Regions from separate parts of the Homo sapiens genome. Here regions 2, 3 and 4 are each reported to be linked to region 1. Evidence: microRNA targets listed by miRTarBase, many of them from high-throughput screens and not tested one by one. Region 1 holds a microRNA gene; each other region holds the end of a gene's coding sequence. Distances are from middle to middle.
The links. The annotated mature microRNA hsa-miR-26b-5p reads UUCAAGUAAUUCAGGAUAGGU and lies in region 1 at 1,659-1,679, opposite strand. An mRNA with a match to its seed (bases 2 to 7 or 8) in the 3' UTR can be bound and repressed. Matches are read on the target gene's strand: a 7mer-m8 pairs with bases 2 to 8, a 7mer-A1 pairs with bases 2 to 7 and ends in A, and an 8mer does both.

Region 1 (3,202 bases):
TGTGTCACTCATGTTGTCAAACCACGAGGCCACCGGTACCTGGGGAAGTGGGTGTAGGAAGATGAGGGGGGCAGGTGGTCCTGGGTGCAGAATTTCCAGGCCAGCCCTATGTAGCCACTACTCAGATCATGCAGTTTCTGAAAACCCCTCACCCACAGTGTTCAAACTTTTTTGACAGCAATCCCCAGGAAAACACATTTATAACGTAACAATGCAAAAGCTTCACAATTCCTAACCTTATCTGTGCGAAGCACTCGGATACTTTTTTTTTTTTTTGAGGCAGGGTCTTGCTCTGTTGCCCAGGCTAGAGTGCAGTGGCACAATCTTGGCTCACCACAGCCTCTGCCTCCAGGGCTCAAGTGATACTCCTACCTCAGCCTTCTGCATAGCCGGGACTCCAGGCATGCGCCACCACGCCTGGCTAGTTTTTGTATTTTTTGTAGACATAAGGTTTCACTATGTTGCCGAGGCTGGTCTTGAACTACTGGGCTCAGCTACCTGCCCACCTCAGCTTCCCAAAGTGCTGGGATTACAGGCATGAGCCACTGCACCCGACCGGATATTTTCTATTCTATTTCATTTTGTTAAAATTCCCAATCAGAACCCACTAAATTAATTCTGTGGGCCATCAGTAGGTCACAACTGGCAATTCGAAAAATTGAAACTTTCCAAACTCCGTTGCCCTGTGGGGGCCCCTGTGCATGGCAGATGCTCTGCTTTGTGCGAGGGGAAAAGACCATATGGCTACAGGGCAGGTGGATGAGGGGAGTGGGCGGCAGGCACAGGCAATGAATGCAGGAAGGACTGGGAGGGCACCCACCCCCCAACTGGGGATCCAAGAGGCCAAGGTGGCCTGAATGGACTGACCCCTTCCTGGGTCTCAGCTCCTGTCCCAGTCCCAGTCCAGCCCGCACTCACAGCATTGTCTGGATGGAAGACATAGGAGGCAGGTGAATTGTCCAGGATGAGCACCCGCCGCAGGTCTCGACCCAACCGGCTCAGGTCCTTCACGTAGTTCCCCCGGTGGAAGACGCAGGACTCTCGAAACAGCCGGGCCCGGAAGGCCCCCCATTTGTCCAGCAGGTCAGCTACTGGGTCTGCGTACTGGGAGCAGGAGGTGGGTCATCCTGGGGCCCGCAGGTTCATTGGGCTGCATGCGGGAGGTAGGTAGGAGGGCAGGGTTGCCCCGGGACCCCTGTGGGGCTCACCTTGGCGAGGCTAGCAGTGAACAGCACACATTCAAAGAGCTCGCCCATTCGCTGCAGGAACTCATCCACGTGAGGACGCTTCAACACGTAGACCTGGGGGGCGGGCCAGTGAGGGGGCTGCGGGCCAGTGGGGCAGTGTGGGGGTGGCCGAGGGCTGGCAGGGCATGGGCCAGGGAGGCAGAGGCGCACAGGAAGGAGACTGGGCCCGCAGGCTCCGCTTGGCCAGCTACCCTGACCACTGCTGGGGAAACTGTACCCACCCCCCGCCAGAAAACGATCAAAACTTCCACTCCACTGGCCAGTCCTACCTCACGAGGTCCCTAATTCCCAATCCCTTCCCCTGCCTCAACCTCAGCCTAGTGCAGGAATCCAGGGGCAGCCCCCTCACCCCAAGGCTGCAGGGCACCGGTCCCCGAGCCAAGTAATGGAGAACAGGCTGGACAGCACACAACCTATCCTGAATTACTTGAACTGGGTCCCGGGCAGGGTGGGGCGAGGGAGCACAGCACGGGGGAGCCTAGAGGAGGAGCCCACTCTGCAGGCTTGGAGTCAGCACAAGCCCTTGAGGTTCTGTGTGACTTTGGGACAAGTCTCACACCCTCTCTGGGCCTCTGACATTCCACATGTATCCAATTCCCATCCGAGGCGCTCCGGATTGGTGGGAAGAGCCTAGGGTCTGGAGGCAGATGCCAAGCCCACCACTGCCTCTTCCTGGCCCTCACCTGGTGGACCACCCCATCAATCTCCACAGGGATGATGAAGTCCGCGTTGTTCACTGGCTGTGGGGGGAAAAGAGCTGCTGGAGTTGGAGGAGGAGCCCCAGGGCATGGGGTCCAGCACACACCTCCCTCCCAGGCCAGGGTGGGGGATGCCCCCCGAGACCCGGGCTGAGGGCTGTTGAGCAGGGCCCACCTTGAAGGAGCTGTGCACCAGGGTCTCGTCCAGGTCGATGACCACGCAGATCTTGTCTGAGTCCTGGGCCTTGGCCTCAGGGAGCAGGTATTGGACTGGGGTCTGCTGTAGGGAGGGCGGGGCTGGCTGGGGTGCCTCTCTCCGGGCCTGGTCCTTCCTCCCACGCAGGCTTCTCCCCCTAGCCGTCTCCAGAGGAACCCCAGGCCCCAGGAACAGATACTTCCCCCTTCCCAGCTTTGCCCCTGCCAGCTCTAGGGCTTGGGTAGGCCTCTTGGCTCTTTGAGACCTCTCTAAAAACCAAGGTAGGAAAAAGCTTCCACTTATGAGGGAGAATTCAGTTTCCCCACAGTGGGCAGGGCCTGGCAGGGGAGGCTGCCACCCTCCTACTCTGCACCTTTCAGGTCTGCAAGTCCATCCTGAAAAGCTCAGTCAGGAGCCCCTTCCCCTAAAGCCCTGAAGACTGAGTCCAGGTGCCCCCGTGGCCCCACCTGGCCCCCACGCACCTTAGGGATGGCGCCATTCTCCTCCACAAGCAGGGGCGCCCCGCTGTGAGCAGGCAGGGCCTCCCCATCATCCCGGCAGACACAGCAGAAGAGTGAGTGGAGGATGCCCCGGCTTCGGGGCTTCTGGGAAGCTGCTGACTTCTGGTCACCTGAAGTAGGGAGGCACAAGTTGGAGGCTCGGTGCACACTGGCCTGCAGAATCCTGCATGTGTGCCCAGGTGTGAACCCCTGAGCCAGGAGGATCTTGCCGTGGCCCCTTCATCCAGACACACGAAGGCAGCTCCTGACTTTCTCTGAAACGCCCCTGTCAGGGCTCCACAATCAACTGCAAGGCTCCTGCAGCTCCCAGACAAATAGGTCTAGCAGGTATTAAGGCGCCCACATAGGGAGTGCGTGGCCTGGAGAAGGAGGTCCTGGGGTGCTCTCTCCCTGCCTCTCACAGCCTCCATGACTGCTGCTGATCAGCCCCATTGCGGTGCCTCCTGACCCCACCTTACCTGAGCACCCCTGCTCAGGACAGCCAGGGCCTGGGACCCAGGGCAGTCCACCCCTGCCCTCCCTCCATCCTCTCCACCCCCG
Region 2 (3,202 bases), not on the chromosome of region 1:
CACCGTCCTTTTCCAAGCATGAACAGTGGGACAGGCCCCAGGAGATGGGTGCCAGGGAGCAGAAGGGGGAGCCTTCAGGCCTGGACAAAACGAAACACCCCCCCAAAAAAAGAAAACCCATGACAAAGCTCCCCTGGGGGCCTCTGAGTGCACAGGCCTCTCCATCTGCCCAGCACCCCACCACCTGCAGTCCACCTCCCCGTAAGCCATGCTTGCCTCCCAGCCCCAACCACATTTGGGGAGTTTGGGGAATCCAGTTCATCCTCTACTTTTGGGGGCAGCCAGCCAAGCCCACTGCAAGAGCTGACCGGCACCCCTCCACTTTGTCCTCCACCCCAGTGACCTGACGGTGAAGTTCTGGAGTGTCCGGCGGTTACCCCACAGCGGCCCACCCTAGGAGTGAGGTCAGAGGGATGCCCCCGGACCCTCGACCCCAGCAGCCTGGACACCATGGAAGGGAAGCTGTGACCCGGCCGATGGGGCCAGCTGCTCTGGGGACAGAGGGCGTGGCCCCCTCTCCTGCCCTCCTCCCTCTCCCTTGGCCTTCCCACAGGACACTGTTCCCTCATCCCTCCCCTGCCTCTCAGGAGCCTCTGGGTGAGAGAGAGGCTGGGGAGGAAATTAAGCTGTGAAGCCAAAGGGCATTATCCCTTCTTGTTCCCCTCCTGGCAGTCGTGGCCACATTGTCTCCTGCTGAACCGGCTCTGCCCCTTTCTCAGGCCTTTGGCCCAGTGGTGGAGCCCTGTGGGGAGGTGCAGCAGCCTGGCCCCATCCCACCCTTCCGAGGAGCTGGCCTCCCCGCTTCTCCCAGCCCAGCCTCTAGAGCCACTGCACCTGCCTCTGAGCCCAAAAAGATAAGTCCTCAGGTAGCTAAGGAAACCAGGTGTGGGCGGCTGGGCCTTGCAGCTAACCCTTAACCCTCTGGCAACCCGCAGATAGCCCCAACTGGCCCCAACAGTTCCCTGGGGTCCCTTTTGGATGGGGCCAAGGTGGAGCTGCTAGAAAGATTCCTTTGGGGAGATGGTCAGAAATACTTCAGTTATTTATTATTTTGTTATTTTTATTTTTTGCTGTTGCCTCCTGGAAACGGACTTGAAGTTTCTTCCCCTATATTCTTTCCCTCAGCTCTTGGGGGCCAGAAATCCCAAAGGGAGTCCGCTGCCCCGGCCCTCCAGGGCCGCCTCCTCTGTTTGCTTTGCAGAGGAGGGAACTGCTCCTTCGACTCTGCAGCTCAGGCCTGTCCCCGACACAGCCCCCAGGGAGTCTTCTAGCTACCCCTGGCCTCTAGGCCGCCTGACGCTCAGTGCCTTCCTCCGTTCCGGGGCCTGGCACCCGTGCCGGGCAGCCTTACACCAGCCATGCCCGCGGCACCACATGTGTCTTCTCACTCGCGAGGTCTTGTGCCCAGCGCCCCCGGGAAGGCGGGGGCGCTCACCCCACAGCCCAGGCCCCGGGGTTCTGCCCCACAGTCCTGCGTGGGCCACGTAGGAAGCAGCATGGGGGCTGTGTCTGCTGGGAGGTGGCTTGGATGGGGAGGACAGCCCGGCACCCTGACCCCCGCCCCTCCCCAGCCCTGCAGTCCCCCACTGGGCCGGGGAGTCTCTCCAGCTTCTCTCTCTCTGGTTATTCAGGAGACACATTTTCGGCCTTAAAACTGGCATGGAGCGCAGGCCCTCCCTTGCAGAAAATTATCAAGGAAGAGGGAGTTGGCAGAGTTTCTCTGCCCCGGGGCTGGGGACGCGGAGCTCCGGGGAAATTGTTAAATCAGTGTTCTGGCGCCCCCTGTTGGGGGAACTCTGGAATTACAGGAGTGGGCCTTGGGGGGGACTGAGCTCCATCCCTCTCCCCCGCCCCACCCCCACCCAAAGTTGCCCACCCTGTTTTTCCGTTGCATCGCTGGTCTTGTGCTTCCCGCTTCAGTCTGGGAGCCAAGAGCCAGCCCCACCTCCCTTCAGAGGACGCAGTGACTTTTGGACTTTCCAGAGGTGGTTCTGTGTTTCTGCCCTTGGCTCCTCTCCGTCTTGGGCTGGGGCACTTGGAGCCCTCTCCATGTGGCGCCCAGTGTTGGGGGGAGGCAGGCTCCAGTGGAGGCTGAGTGAGGCCTGGTCCCTTCCCCGTGCCCTCCTCGGAGCTGCCACAGAGGCTAAGACGGCTGTCCTGCTGGTGCTGGCCCTGCTGGATGTGGTATTGAAGTCTGGGGCAGCTGATAGCAGGAAGGAGACCCCCTTGGATGCTGGTCTCCTGGGACCTGAACAGTCTGTCAGCAATGGCTGGAAATCCTTCTTCCTCTGGCCACCCCGGGGGTGCCGGGCAACCCCCTTAGCTCTAAGATGTGGCCACAAATCTCTTCCCACTCCTCCCCGCCAACCTGAACAGAAAGTTTTGACCTTGCAACCTGTAAGAAAGAATCCGTCCGCATGACTGTTTACAAGCGATAGAAACACGTAAGACTCTGTCCCCTTGAGCTCCCACCCCCGGGCCGGGGATGCCCCACCTGGGGTGACTGCACTGTAGCTGCAAGGCGTGTTCTTGCACGAAGTGTGATCTTATGGCCCTGCGAGAGGTGCTCATCATCATGCCCATTTTCTGCTGTTTCTGATGGGTCAGCTACCTCACGGCGGGGCCAGCTCTGCTGTCCTGGCAAGTGTCATTGACTCTCTAAACTTGAAGTCCTTCAGGAGCCCTGAGCCCAACATCCATGAGACACCCCGAGTTGTGCTTCATGAGAGTTGGATTCTCTGCCCACTCTTTCAGGGATGTCCAAGGTCCATGTTAGGGGGCAGGCCCCCAGCTCCACTCACTGCACAAGCACCCTAAATGTTGGAAGCACAAAATGGTTGTGATTTGAGCACAATGGCAGGGTCCCGCAGGCAGACTTGACAGGCCCAGGCCCGGGAGGATCCCCCCACGTTGGCTCTGTCCAAAGTGAGATTGGGGGTGCCTGTGTCTGGGACAGGGGGCTGCCCTTGCTCAGACCAGGCCTTGGCTCATGGCTTGTCCTAATTCTGGGACTCGTCATCTTACTTCTTGCCCTTCTGTGCCCATCTTAAGACTGGAGGCTGAGCCTTGTCAGGCCCAGCCACATCTTTACGCCATGGGACCAGGAGTAAAGCGCTCTCTAAACCCCGCACCCCAAATCTCTAAACGCCTGAGTTCAGGCTGAGTCCTAGCCCTAGTGAGCCTGAAGAGCTTGGACTGATTC
Region 3 (3,202 bases), 83 Mb from region 1:
GAATCGATTAAAAAATTCTTACCCAGAGTCAAGATGAAAATCATCTTTTCACTCTGGAGAAAAACAGCTCCTTACTGGACTGAGGCTGTCAGACGTAGACTTGGGTCATTGCTGGAAGAAACATAGAAAGCAGCACAGCTCCGAGGTCCTTTTTCATCAGATGTGTAAATATGGCCTTCTCTCTTCAGAGCAGATTGCCTGGCAGTCATCATCCCTCCTGTCTGTCTCCAGCCCGGCTGCTCATGCAGTGTCTCAAGCTTCTTGCATTTGCTGTGTTATGTGGTTTTTGAGTAATCTTAACATATAGCTGACTGCATTACTGAGTAACGTGGGACATTTTCATATCTTTATTATGTTAATTCATCTGTCCTTCAAAAGCATCTGAGTTTAGCATTTGACCTGCTTTTGACTTTAGCATTTGATTCTTTTCCAGGCTGCAGCTATGACTCCACCAGAGGAGGAATTGAAGAGAATGGGCTCCCCAGAGGAAAGAAGGCAGAACTCCGTGTCAGACTTCCCACCCCCTGCTGGCCGGGAATTCATTTTGCGCACCACTGTGCCGCGCCCTGCTCCCTACTCCAAAGCTCTGCCTCAGCGGATGTACAGTGTTCTCACCAAAGAGGACTTTAGACTTGCAGGTGCCTTTTCATCAGATACTTCCTTCTTCTGATTCTTCTAGCATTACTCGTTGGTGGCTTCAGAGACAGTGCTGCCTCCTCCTGAGGGAGGGAAGGTACCAGGGAGAACCTGGGAGGTCCTGGAGAGGGCCCTGTCCAGTTGGGTGATCAGGAATCAAACCAGCATCGGAAAGACTTCCCAGCACCAAGCTTGAGCTGTGTCGTTTCGTGGAGGGGGCAGCGAGGATGGGCTTGAGCTGTTGAGAGATTTCTGCCCTAGAGATGGCCTTTGTATATGGGGGGGTGGTGGGGGGACACAAACACATCAGACACTCCGTCCTCACACTGGCAGGACGGTGTTCATCGCATTCTCTTCTGTGACCAGCCTCTAGGCTAGCGGCTGCATTCGTGGTCTGTGCAAACACTTCGTGGTTCTATATATCAGCAGCAAGTGTGCAAAATAAAGGACCTGTTAACTCAGATTTCTGGATATTTTGGTGGTAGCTTCTAGTCCCAGAATCTGTGTTTTTAAAATACTACATGACATTCTGTCTATTCAATCACCTGGTGGTCATCTTTCTTGTACTAATTAACTGTTGATGAGCATTTTGGATATTCTAGGAGAAAGCCTATAATTTCACATAGTTTCTCTTTTTCATGTAACTGTAACCTAAATGTATTACTTCTGATAAAACTATATATCAAATGTCACTGCAAATTAGTTTTATATCTGTCATGTGAGATTTGTCTTACTTATTTTTCTTTTGGTTGCCATGGAAGTTATGGCCCTGAAAATCGTCTCCCTCCCCTTCTCTTGCTGTACAGCATGCGTTCTCTTTTTGTGGTTGCTGGCTGGGTACTGTATTTAATGAAGTAGAGAATAGCACTTGCAAAAATACAGTCTTGGTACCTAGAGACTGTCATGCAGATAGTATAATTTGGTATATGTGCTAATGCATTGAGTAGAGGATTATTTTAACACACTATTTTGCTTTTGTATTTTAGTTAAAATAATCGATGGGGATGTGTAGCCCCCCCGTGTGAGGATGACATCACCACATTTCTAGTTTCATGGAGCTCAAGATGTCTTGTGTCTGTGTGGCTAGATGGCCTCTGCTTGGTAATCTTATTTTTAGGCCTAAAATTCCCACTTAAATCCAAAGTAAAAATGGTTATACTGAAGCATAAACCTTGCCTGTGTAATTTTAAAAAATTAATAGAGCTGTGCAAACCCTGTTATTTTTGTAAAAAAAAAAAAAAATACATATCTATATATAATATGTGTGTGTGTGTGACATATGCACACGTCTCTGTGTATGTGAAGTAGGGGAGGCCCTGGGGGATGACCTCCCAGCCTTTATGATGCTTTTCTCTATGCTGCTGGACTTCATTCTTACTGGTCCACGCAGATGCAGGCGGCCTGAGGCCAGTGCTGTACCAAGTAGAAGACGGTTCCTAAGGACAGAGTTTGTCTGTTTTCTAACAAAGAAAAATTCTACAAAGGAGAGGTTGGGCGTTACAAAGGCATTGTGAATCTAATAAAAGGAAAGTGTCGCTTTCTGTGGCGTTTTCTTTCATTTTCTCCCGCTGAGGCATTTCAGTCTAATTTCATGTGGTTTTGTGCTGTCTCAGCTCTAATGTTTGCAGCCTGCTGAGCCTAACAAGGCAGTGGTCTCAAGAACATTCTTTGTGCCTTTTTAAAGTACTCCATTTTATTTTTATGATAGTTATGTATTTATTTCACAGATATATTTAAGTACCCACTTTGTGTCAGGTACAGTACAAGCAATGAAGATAAAACAGAAACCAAAACACACTCCCTTACAGGGAAAACTGACACCACGTTGCCACAAAATGTTGAGTATAGTCAACTCTGCTGTGTGGATCGGAGGGCCTGCATTTATCCTACAAATAATTGAATGTAATCCTACATTCATGTATTCATTGGCAGTACGGAGTAATAAATGCAGCAATGTCATAAAGTGTTGTAGGAGTTTCTTCACCCAGGCTTTGAGGATCAGGAAAATTACCCCAGAGGGTGTGATTTTGGGATTGAGACCAGAAGCTGAGTAGGCACTGGGGAAAGCATGGGGGGCGTATGGGAAATGGCTTGCAGAGAACCAGGCATTCCTCCAGCCCTGTGTGCAATGAAATCATGATTTTCATTGTGAAGTGCTTTATTTCTCCACCTCTTCAATCTGGTCTCGGCCATGTCTTTCTTTGGTCAACAGACAGAGACTTGACAAGTCCTTGCACATTGGGGCTTGCCCTCCCTTCTTGCCAGGAGCCTTGAAGCCACTGTGAAGAAGGCCACTCTAGGGTGAGAGTTGGGGCAAAAGGTAACTGACAGGAGGGGGCAGAAAGCGTATTACAAGCAGAGGAACGGAATGGGCAAAATCCCAGAAATAAGGGAAAATGTCTATTTGGGGGGCAGCCAACATTTCTATTTGGCTGAAGTGTGGTATCTAGAGTGGGAAGGGGCAAGAAATGAAGATGGTGAGGTGAACTAAGGCAAGACCAAGAAGTTCGGGGGAAGCCGCAGCTACAAGTTAGGGCTTTGCCTTTGGGGCGGTAGTGAGTCACTG
Region 4 (3,202 bases), not on the chromosome of region 1:
ACTTTTAAAAATGTTATTAAGCAAAAATGCTGGTGTAAGATCAACAATTCTTTCAAAATTGACACCCAACTAAATACAGTTAGGGAGCAAATTCTTTTTGAGATTAGGGCCAATATTTAGTATTAAATGACTTCAGTTATTGTTGACATTGTACTTTTACCTTTGTATGTGGTCAGCAAACAAGTTCCACAAGTTTAGAGAGAATCAAGAATATATGCTGCATTCTCTAAATAATGTAAAATAGCTAAATTCATGCTATCTTCCACCCAAAGATGTGAAGTTTTGAGCAATTTTTAAATCCCACTGGGATTTAAATATGTGACTATTGCTTGTGCATATCTAATAATTTCTAGTCTCTTTATTTAAAATCAAGTAGCCTCTTCCTCATTGGCATCATTGTTTGTTTCAAGCAGTACTGTCCTCCTATGTTTTTGGATAGTCTCACCTCACCCTTAACAGCAAGCAGTACGTCTGTCACCACCACCAGCTCCCATGAAAGCAGTACTCATGTTAGTTCATCCAGCAGCAGGAGTGAGACAGGGGTCATAACCAGCAGTGGAAGTAACATTCCTGACATCATCTCATTGGACTAAAGGAGGACTCACTTGATTCTGGGAATCATTCATCAGAACTGCTTTTTCTTGGATCTCTAGTCTGTGGAAACGTTCTTTTTTTTTTTTTTTTAATAATTTGGTATTTATTGAAAGTCAGATGGATTCTTTTGCTTTCTGAGGGGTGAACACAGAAGACTGCAACAAGAACCAAATGACATGCAAGGATTTTTCTTAATTATGCTGTACTCTCAGCATCAGATACATTCAACCATAACTGTATCTTCCTGAGAGATGGATTTCACTTTCATACGTTAATGGATGGAGTCTACAAATCAGTGAAAAAAGTTTTTGTTAAAATAAAGAGCAATAAAATTATGTAAATATTCAAGTAACCTTTTTTCTAATTAAAAAAAAAATTGTAATCACTGATTCTAGAATGACAGCAACTTCTGTTTAACCTTACGTGAAGGAAAAAAAATATATGGAAAGAACTTAATGTTTGCTGAATGAGTCCTTTCCATGGAGATTTGCTCTGTTTCATTGAAGTAATGAAGTTTCAGTACGTGGCCAAAGCTTGGATTCCACTTTTCGTCCTGCATTTCCACTTTTCTTCGTGATTGCATCAAAGAAAAATGGCATTCGTGTTACTTGGTTTTTTTCCTGCTTATCATTTACACTTTGACGTTGTTTGCTAATGAGTGCTGTGTGAAGTTCTGGGATTTGGCTACTCTTCATTGGTGATTATGTTTAAAAGCACTATGCAGATTCTGCCCTGACATAAAGTGTGTTATTATGTTTTTAGTAATTGTACATTTTTCATTCTAGAGTTTTCTATAAATTTGAGGCTTGCCTTCTCAAAAAAGAAACTATGCAGCCATTGAATGAAATGTCTTTGGGGTACGGTGTGACTGGAATGTTTGTTAGAAATTTGTTCACACTATCAAATATTGATATCTTGGAGCCAGCAGAAGAGCAGATTTTGGGAGGTGGTAATAACAAAATTTAATTTCTTCCCAACAACTTAATTTTCTCATTTATTTTACAGAATAGTAGTGAAATATTTGATGAAACTTTGTATTTTGGTAGCACTACATAGAAAATGTGTTTTAGATTTATGATGATCATATTTCTCACCAATGTAATTTCAGTCTCAGCAGTGATTTTCAAACTTAGGGAAAGGGACAGCATTAGATTTTTTTTTTTTTTCATTTTTTTAAAATGATATCTTACCTGAAACTACAAACGACAAAAGAGAATTAGAAATGTTTGAATTAAAGTGAAGAAGGGTTGGGGGAGATGGGCCTGAACCCACTTCCTGTCTCAATCCATGCTACCCCAAACACTCCAGGGAACCTCTGAGGTTTTATTGGGTGCACTTTGAAAATTTCTCTTCTATAGTGTGTTTGTTTGATTTTAAATCACAGAGAAAACTGGGTTTTACTCTTAGAGAAACATTTTCATCCAGTTTTTTAGTTTGCTTCATTTGACTTCCTAAATCATTTTTGAGTTCACAAGGATTTGGTACTTTTCTGTTTAGCTTTCTCTCTCTAAGCTTTATCTACCTTAAAAACAAAGTCCTTTTTTTAATGGCCAGTCCAACCAATTGATTTCTCAAACTGAAGTGCCCAGGTGTGGACTCATCAATTTCCGTTAGAATAGGGACATCCTACTTAAGAGTTGGTGCAGCTCCAAGGAGCTGACTTGTCCTTGCTTGGGGTTTTTTTTTTTTTTCTTTCACCTTCTCAAGTTTCCATGGCCTTTGTGTGTTCTTTTTATGTTGATTTAAATTCATATGGTTTTCCACAAATCCCTTCTTTGGCTACATTGTCTCCTTATTCAATGGATTATCCCTTTGTGGGGGCTGCTTATTTTAAAGATGTTGGGGGGGAAACAAACCCAAATCTACGAGCAGTAGTTGCACATAGTTGCCAGTTTTACCTTCTTAGTCATTAGATTTCCAAACCATGTTGCAGTTTTTTGGTCCAGATATAGTATTTCTTTCTAATAAAGTTTTATGTTGCTGCTCTAAATACAGATGCAATATTTATTGACTCTGTAATCAGATAGAAAAAACTTAACTTGGTTTGTGTGGTATGACTTATAAAGAAATGATGTATATTTGTTATTTTGTTACCCTTTAGATTGTCAGAGACTCCCCCAATTTAATCAACAAAGTTTTATAAAGTAAATGAAAATATTAATAGAAATTAGTTTATTTACTTGGTTCTTATAACTGATATCTCTGTGCTTTTATAATTGTGATTTGTTTTTTTGTTTTTTTTTCTATTTTCTGTGAACAGTTTTAATGTTCGGTTTTGGTGTTTTACACTGAAATTACATATAAATTTTTAATTTATTTCATACAGGCAACTTGCATTTTAAAAAATACACTTTGAAGTTTATCATCTTGAAATTGGGGCTTACGTTGTTTATCTGTCTTGAGCATTAGTACTTTATGACTTTGGCCTTATGGCAACATCATGATTATTAATCCGTCAGCCTTTAATGTGGTCACTGTTTCTTATCCAGACCCTGACTTTCTAGTAGTTTATTTTGCTAGCCCAGATTTCTGCTTAACCAAATATAAGGGAGTTTCAGAGGGGTGATCTTAGCTGTCACCTAGATTCTGTCAGCCAACCAGTGATTGT

Region 2: miRTarBase lists KIF21B as a target of hsa-miR-26b-5p. Seed matches in the 3' UTR shown: 7mer-A1 at 1,091-1,097 and 7mer-A1 at 2,663-2,669.
Region 3: the mRNA of RAB3GAP1 is a reported target of hsa-miR-26b-5p. The part of its 3' UTR that is shown has no 7-base or 8-base seed match.
Region 4: miRTarBase lists PIAS2 as a target of hsa-miR-26b-5p. The part of its 3' UTR that is shown has no 7-base or 8-base seed match.

What each region holds. Positions count from the first base shown.
Region 1 is chr2:218,401,134-218,404,335 of GRCh38, reverse strand. It overlaps MIR26B (microRNA 26b), which reads right to left and starts at 1,690; the gene lies at 1,614-1,690. CTDSP1 (CTD small phosphatase 1) reads right to left here. Exons shown (of 7, transcript NM_021198.3): 2 at 2,624-2,772; 3 at 2,121-2,225; 4 at 1,931-1,987; 5 at 1,209-1,301; 6 at 919-1,104; 7 at 1-39.
Region 2 is chr1:200,970,716-200,973,917 of GRCh38, reverse strand. KIF21B (kinesin family member 21B) reads left to right here. Exons shown (of 35, transcript NM_001252102.2): 35 at 340-3,202. The coding sequence ends at 397. Among named protein-coding and RNA genes, the nearest start is that of KIF21B, 51 kb to the left of the region's middle. RefSeq lists an enhancer at 2,664-2,843.
Region 3 is chr2:135,168,112-135,171,313 of GRCh38, forward strand. It overlaps RAB3GAP1 (RAB3 GTPase activating protein catalytic subunit 1), which reads left to right. Exons shown (of 24, transcript NM_012233.3): 24 at 434-2,599. The coding sequence ends at 670. Among named protein-coding and RNA genes, the nearest start is that of SNORA40B, 33 kb to the left of the region's middle.
Region 4 is chr18:46,809,824-46,813,025 of GRCh38, reverse strand. It overlaps PIAS2 (protein inhibitor of activated STAT 2), which reads left to right. Exons shown (of 14, transcript NM_004671.5): 14 at 414-3,202. The coding sequence ends at 593. Among named protein-coding and RNA genes, the nearest start is that of ST8SIA5-DT, 54 kb to the right of the region's middle.